Linked DNA regions of Homo sapiens. The protein of the gene in region 2 purifies or fractionates together with the protein of the main gene of each other region. This does not show direct contact. Each region holds a gene or a part of one and is shown on either strand. Other genes may lie near its edges.

Evidence for each region.
Region 1: the proteins of TACR1 (region 2) and PKP4 purify together in Homo sapiens (affinity purification with mass spectrometry; 2 studies listed by BioGRID and IntAct, with this or other methods). This does not show direct contact.

Annotation. Positions count from the first base shown.
Region 1 is NC_000002.12:158,463,298-158,466,951, reverse strand, and holds part of PKP4 (plakophilin-4), read right to left. Parts: intron 1-3,654. UniProt on the Homo sapiens protein: Plays a role as a regulator of Rho activity during cytokinesis. May play a role in junctional plaques.
Region 2 is NC_000002.12:75,192,961-75,196,614, forward strand, and holds part of TACR1 (substance-P receptor), read right to left. Parts: intron 1-3,654. UniProt on the Homo sapiens protein: This is a receptor for the tachykinin neuropeptide substance P. It is probably associated with G proteins that activate a phosphatidylinositol-calcium second messenger system.

The DNA of each region.
Region 1 (3,654 bases), about 83 Mb from region 2:
ACTTCTGTCTTAACTCTTCAACTGAGTATACAAAGATATTACTGATTCACAAAAGGTACAGATACAGAAAGTTTGCTCAATATCACACTTTCAAAGCTTAGCTTAGTCTTGGTGCTTGATTGGTGCCTATTAGTAGTATGATAAAGAGCATTATGAAAACTCATCTCACTATGGTTATAATCCAGGCAATTAAGTTTAAAATGAATATGAACCAATCTGTTTAAAATCTTCTAATTAATTTCTTTTTGAAATGGAGTTTCGCTCTGTCACCCAGGCTGGAGTGCAGTGGTGCAATCTCTGCCCACTGCAACCTCTGCCTCACGGGTTCACGTGATTCTCTCACCTCAGCCTCCCAAGTAGCTGGGACTACAGGCGCCCGCCACCACGCCTGGCTAATTTTTTTTTTTTTGTATTTTTAGTAGAGATGGGGTTTCACCATGTTGTCCAGGCTGGTCTTGAACTCCTAATCTCAAGTGATCCACCTGCCTCAGCCTCCCAAAGTGCTGGGATTACAGGTGTGAGCCACTGCACCCAGCCGTTAATTTCTTTACTAAGGAATTTGGTATAATGAATTATTTATCTAGCAAGTTGTATTAGAAAAGCATTTTTTTAAAGTCTAAATAGTTTTTTCCTTTGAAACATGCAGGATAAATGGTATCAGGGTCTCAGACCAGTTTACAAAAGGACAGAGGATAGGTACTAGGCACAAACAGACACGATTATCCAAGAGTAGCAGGTGAAGGTGTTCAAAACTAGAATTCAAACTCATTCATTCACTTAAGGTATGTAGAACCACTGGAGGTCAAGATTTAAGTCCTGTAGAAAGATAAAGTCCCTGCTGTTGAGTAGCTTAGAGCAGGACTATTTTCCCATGGAACTGATATACTATAGTTACACTACAGGACGGGAGATTTATGGATTAATGTTGCTTCTGTGAAAAATTATATTCACAGTTCTAAATAATATTTTGGAAGACTGACACTTGCCGATATACTATCCGAAGATTTCAGACTGACACTTATTTTTCATCTGTTGACAGTCTGAATTAGACCTTTAACATCTGAGTTGTTTATCACAGGTCTCAGACTAATAGTATTAATAGTTCTTGTGAAGTCCAGTTGGATTTTGTGATTCCTTAGTCAGTGCCTTTTTTAAACAGACTTACTGCTTATGTAGTTGTCGACAAAATGACAGTAAGTGAAAAATTCCCATCAGTGCATCATTCTGAGATTCAAAGTAAGATTCAATGAGACCATTTATTCTAGCATACATCACGAGAGATTTTGAAACATTCTGTTTATTCATAACAATGGGAGGGAATATTTTCAACAGCAAGTTTGGGCTTATAAAGGCACACAAATTACATAGAGAATAAAAGAAAAGCACAAAACACAATAAACGAAAATACTGCTGCATGAAAAATAAAAATAAGAATGTAATAAAATGGCAGGTCTTACAGCATAAATTATGGTTTCTCATAAATCATGTATTGTCATTATGATTAATTATTTCACATAGGCTATATGGTAAAGTGTTTCAAGAGATACAGCCAAAATAATCAAGTTCATGATTAAAACTTATTTTGAAATCACTATTTATCTTTGGTGCAGACTTTTCCCAAAGAAAGCTAATGAGAGTGGTTAGTGCATATCTCTAGAATCGGGTAATTTATCATGTAATACACAATTAAGCAAGTAGAAGTATGAGCTACAACCTAGTTATTTTATAGCTCATCCTTAATACTTATGAAACAATGTTACATGCTTATTTATATACCAACATTTCTAGGACAATCTTCTCTACCTCATGTGTCTTATCTTTCCCAACCAGACTGAAAAATGTATCATGGATTCCTTAAAGACCGAGACTCCCATTACTGAATCTAACACAGACAGTAAGTATCCCTGGAGGAAGTCATCTTTTTGGCCATAAGGCCTATCAGTCTGATATGGAGTAGGGGACTAAAAAATGTTGGTTAAAATGAACTAAAATGAATCATTTCAAATAAGTAGTATCGTTTTAAATAAGTATGCAAAATGAAACACAATACTGCACACACAGCAGGACTCCAACAAATATCTAAAGTACTAATTGTCTACAGTCCCCTCACTTGCACCCCTAGTGGTATACAGGAATAAAGTTACCTTTAATTCATCAAACAGTCCCTGTTTCCCACTCAACTCAGGGTACAGGTGTCAGAACACATGATCCATTTCACTGCAAAGTGGTAAATAATGGTTTCTATTTTACATGAGTGTTTACAATTCTCATGAAGGTATGGGAACAACAGCCAGTTCTTCAAGGGTTTATTTTGATCGTGACATTGACAATTCATTTAATACTGCATACAATAGTAGTATAATTAATGCTTCCCTTTGCAAATAATGTGCTTATTGCATTAGCAAAGGGGAAGAGCTAACCTCAATATTTTTAAACAATTGTTTTATAGATAAATACATACTAGAGTTCTATACGGATTTTTTTTCTCCACAAAGGAAGAGAACAGGGTCTAGGAGAAACTTTCATCACTGAATTTTTAAATTACTTTTTATAGAAGAGCACAAATCCAAGTAAAAAATTCTCCTCATGAAATCTGCCACAATTTCTGAACACTGGTAGATTGTCTATATGTAAAAATTAGACTTGAATGAAAAGTCCCTCTATTCTATGAGATATGGATTGACGAGTTCCCTATGAACCTAAAGTATTCATACAAAATGTTTTCAGAGGAGCAACTCTGTCAGTTGTTTAACTTCTCTGAGGACAAATCAAACCATCTGAGCAAGTAAGAAGTGGATCTTTCTCACTGTAACAAGACTAGTCCCTTCTAACCACCATGCTAAATCCCCTTTCTTGTTTCTATCCAACTTCTGAAAAATGTAGTCTCAATCAGAGGTGAAGCCTCCAATGTGCACAGGGGACTGGTTGTAGACAAGTAAGTCCCAGAAGTCAGGGCTGTGACAAACTGCAGATGTGCAGCTCCATAAAGGCTCACTGCTCAGCTCCTGCCCCGAGGGGCCCCAGGGATCCTCACTCCTGGAGCACTTCACCACTACCGCACAAGACACGGAGCCACTGACTCAGCCACAGAGGGGTCACAGGTTTGTCTGGCTGCGACACATATTTTCAGGAGCTGAGAATTTCAAGTATACAACTTCAATTTTCCCTCCTTATCCCAGAGGGTAAATTGTCATAAATCCTTGGGAAGACAGCATATTCTTGCTGAGGAAAAAATGTAATGGCTTGATGTTCTAAGAGTTGCGAAATGTAAGTACTAGAGGGACTCTAGAGAGCATCTAGACCAACTCCCTCATTTTATAGACAAGAAAACTAAAGCCCACGAGAGTTACATGATGTGCTCATGGGACACACACCTGCATAGTGGCAAAGCCAGGACTAGAACTAGAGCCTCTTGATATCTATTTAACCACTGTCTGTTGATTTATATCATGTATATTCCAAACCCCCTTCCTCTTTTCTAGCCTTTCTTGATTTGGGAGTCTCCTGCTGATTTCAAATATCCTTTTTTTTTTTTTTTTCAACTGTGATCACTTTCAGACAGAAAAGCCAGCTTAAAGAGTTAATTTACAAGCTGCATTTGGGCAAATGGTGTTAAATGATGAACACTTTCTAACGCTTTATTCATGTACTGAC
Region 2 (3,654 bases):
AAACTCCACATTCATTTCCCTGTGCCTTGCTGCCTCTCTTCCTCTTTGTCGTTTCCTCCTCTTCTTTCTCTTCATTCTCTTTCATTCTGTCTCCTCCTTCTCTTTTCTCTCCCCTCCATCCTCTCTCCCCTACTGCCCTCCCTCTCCTTCTTCTTCTCCTTTTACCAGGAAGTCTTTCCCATATTCCCAAGGGAGTTCTTTGCTCTAACTCTGCTCCCTCTGCATGGCATTGATTGCATTGGGTTATATGCTGTTCGTGACCTTGTTAATCTCCAAAGACTGAGACACAATGGCAAAGGCAATGTCTTACTGCCTCAGAATATGGCACACAGTAAGTGCTCAATAGTGGTTTGATGGACGGATGGATGAGGAAAGAGATCATTCCCTTCACTGCCATCTAATTTTATTTCCTCTTACCATTCTCTGCTGATATTGTCTCTTTGATCCCTGGCTTGTCATTCTCTAGCCTCACTTCTCAAGTTTCTTGTCGGGCATTCCAACTAATCGTTATATTTTCATGTCAAATTCAACATAGAGTATTCTCATATTTTTCTGGGCAACTCCTCAATTCATTCCCTGATTCACCTGTGAATTCACTTCGGTTGAATCAGTCTGTCATTGACCTGAGGCACTTTGCAACATTTGACTTCCATGCTTCTGTCATACAGCTTCTTCTACCTGAAAGGTCATTTCTTTTTTTTTTAATCAACTTCTCTAAAAATCTTATCTAATCTTCAAGGCCTAACTCAGTTGCCCTATCTTGAGGTCTTCCTTGATCATTCATCACTGCTGGGCAGGATGTCCCTCCTCTTGTCTCCTATGGAATATATCTGTACAACCCATATGAAACATTTTACTTAATACCTTATATTTTAGTTACCTCTAAATCAGTCTTATTTGCCTTCATATATAGCCCTTTGAGGGAATAAACAAGGCTGTGAGTTAGGAAACCTCACCTTACCTTGATGGCATCAACACTTGATAGACTGAATATCTTTATCTAAGTTTGATGGTGTTTCTGTCTCATGATCCTCACTCTAATTCAGCAACAATAATAGTAACAGTGTCTTGTGCTTGTGCTATGTGCTTTTATTTTGAGAATTATTCTTTATTTGCCTCCAATTCAAACTATGATTTCTTCCAGTTTTTTAAAAAAGTAACACCCTTGACCATTCAGGACACTGCAGGCTCCCAGGAGTAGGGAGAGAGTGTGGCAAGTGTAACGGAGCAGCTCCAGAGAGGAGGTGGGCATTGGACCTCTTGAAGAAAGGCCCTGAAATCTAAATGACCCATCTGAGAATTAACAAACTCCATTTTGATCCACATCAATGCTGACATTGGAAAAGACAGGGCCAGTTGTGGCCAATGAGCTTCTAGTGAATGGCCATTCACAGCATCACAGCAGTGCATGGTAATGGGTTTCCAGGGCCATCCGAATTAGTGCAAAGGATCCTGGAATTTAATTCCCCCTCCAGGTGGGGTGAGGGAAGACTGCTCTGAGATAAACAATGAGATTGCAGTTCAACCAACAAGGTAAAGTTCAAGGATAGAGTGCAGGTCTAATAGAGACCTGGAAAGCAGGATATTTAAATTGGTAGCTGAGTATGGCTGGGACAGAGTGTGTAGACACGAGTTCAGTGGACAAAGTTTTTGTGATTTATTCATGTTTTTGTTCTAGGTTCCTCTTTTACATTATCAGCTCTCTCAGAGAGCTCAATTCCTCTTTTGCCTTCAACCATTACTCTCTCTGGGCAACTATATTTTTTGGTCTCAGAGAGACCATTTTATTTGGAGTCTGAGTGAGCAACTGCTACCTTTCATTTTGCTGAAATTATGCTTGCCCCTACCAGGTAGAGAAACAGTGATACCAGGCCAGTGCTTGTCTGGACCTCGCTGTTGCTCCTGTTGCTATGTGCATGGTTTCAAATCAGGTTATCTGTTGCCCATTCCCCAGCTCCCTGCAGGGCTTGGAGATTGCCTCCCTTCCTCTACTCCCTTCTTAGGTTCTGCTCCACAGTACTTGCCAGAGCATCATAATAGAACCAGTAATTGTCACCAACTCCTGAAAATGGGGGTTAGGGGAACGGGGCTGTTGAGGGGGGAGTCATCACCTCTCTGTGTCCCCCATCTTCAAATTTCATGAAACATCATACATACCTTTTAGTTTTATAGTTGTAAAGAATTTTTAAATTCTAAGTCAGAGAAATTATAGAGTTTCAATAGCTAAAATCCCTGGTATTTGTTGGAGTTTAGATAGAGGTAAACCTGATCTTATTTAGCTACATTTGTCTCTGAAACATTTTTAAATTCTAGGTAACTGCTGCCTTCAAAAAATAAAACTCTTTCTAATGGAGATATTTCTTCCCTCCCCTCCTCTCCTATCCCCTTCCCACCTCCCACTTTTCTTCCCTCTTCCCTCCTTCTCCTACCTTCCCTTCCTTTCCCCCCATCCCTTTTTTTCCTTCCCTGACCCCACCCCACCTTTCCTGTAGAAAGACTACAGGAAACATTTAAATTAGTACTGCAATCTGCAACTGAAGTTTTTCTCCGCATATATCTTGATTCTAATAGGAAATTTGACAAAGTTTACCAAGATAGTTTGACTCAACAATTCCTTTAAAAATCCTTTAAAATGAGAAGATATAGCTTTTTAAAAATTCATTTTATTTGATGTAGTAATTCTACTTATTGGGATCTATCTTAAGAAAATAATCAAGAAGGCAAAACAAAATTATCATATATAAATATTCCTTAGATTATTAATTATAATAGCAAAAATCTAGAAATCACCTAAATACACAACAGTAGAGAAATGACTACGTAAATAATAATAGCATATTCACATAATAGAATAGTATGAAGCCATTAAGATTATGTTTCTGAAAACTTTTGAATAACACAGGAAGGTGTTATTAAAGTCTTTCATTAATACCAATGGAAAAATATAGGCTACAAAATTATATAGAATCTAACCTCAATTATGTAGTATAATAGTCATAAAAGAGAAATTCAAAGGTTAGCAGGTGTTGCTTCTTGTCGGTTAGGTAAGGGGGATTGGATTTTTGTGCTCTTCATATTTCCCAAGTCTTCTGCAGTGAACAGGTTTAATTTTACAATCAGGAAAGCCACATTGCTGTTATTTTTAAAGACTTGATTCAAAGGTTGTCTGTTAAAAATTCAAGGAATATACAAACAGCTGATTTAATATTTCCTCTAAGTCTGCATTTCCATGCTGGAGAAAAGGGAGATAACTTACAGGGAGAGGACTTAAAGCCCCCTTTCTTTCCAATACATTCTTGGGAGAGAATGGATGACCACACATGCAGGAAATATATTCATTGGAAGGCCTGAGGGGGTGAGTTTATAGTGTGCTCACCAGGCTGAGCAAGAAAAAATAGAAGGAGCACTTGGCAGACATGGAGACAGAGACCTGAAGTCTCATCCCTAATTCTACCTTGAACTCTAATCTTAGGAATGCCATTGGTAACCTCCCTGGGCTGTATCTGCATGTTGGAAACATGGTGACATTCCCTGTCGCTGTCATTTCCTAAAGCTCTGGCATCCGAGACCTTTTGGTCTCACTGAGCAGGTATCACAGAGGGTCGGGGCTCTGCGGTGGTTTACCTAGAGAAAAACAACAACGGAGCTGAAATC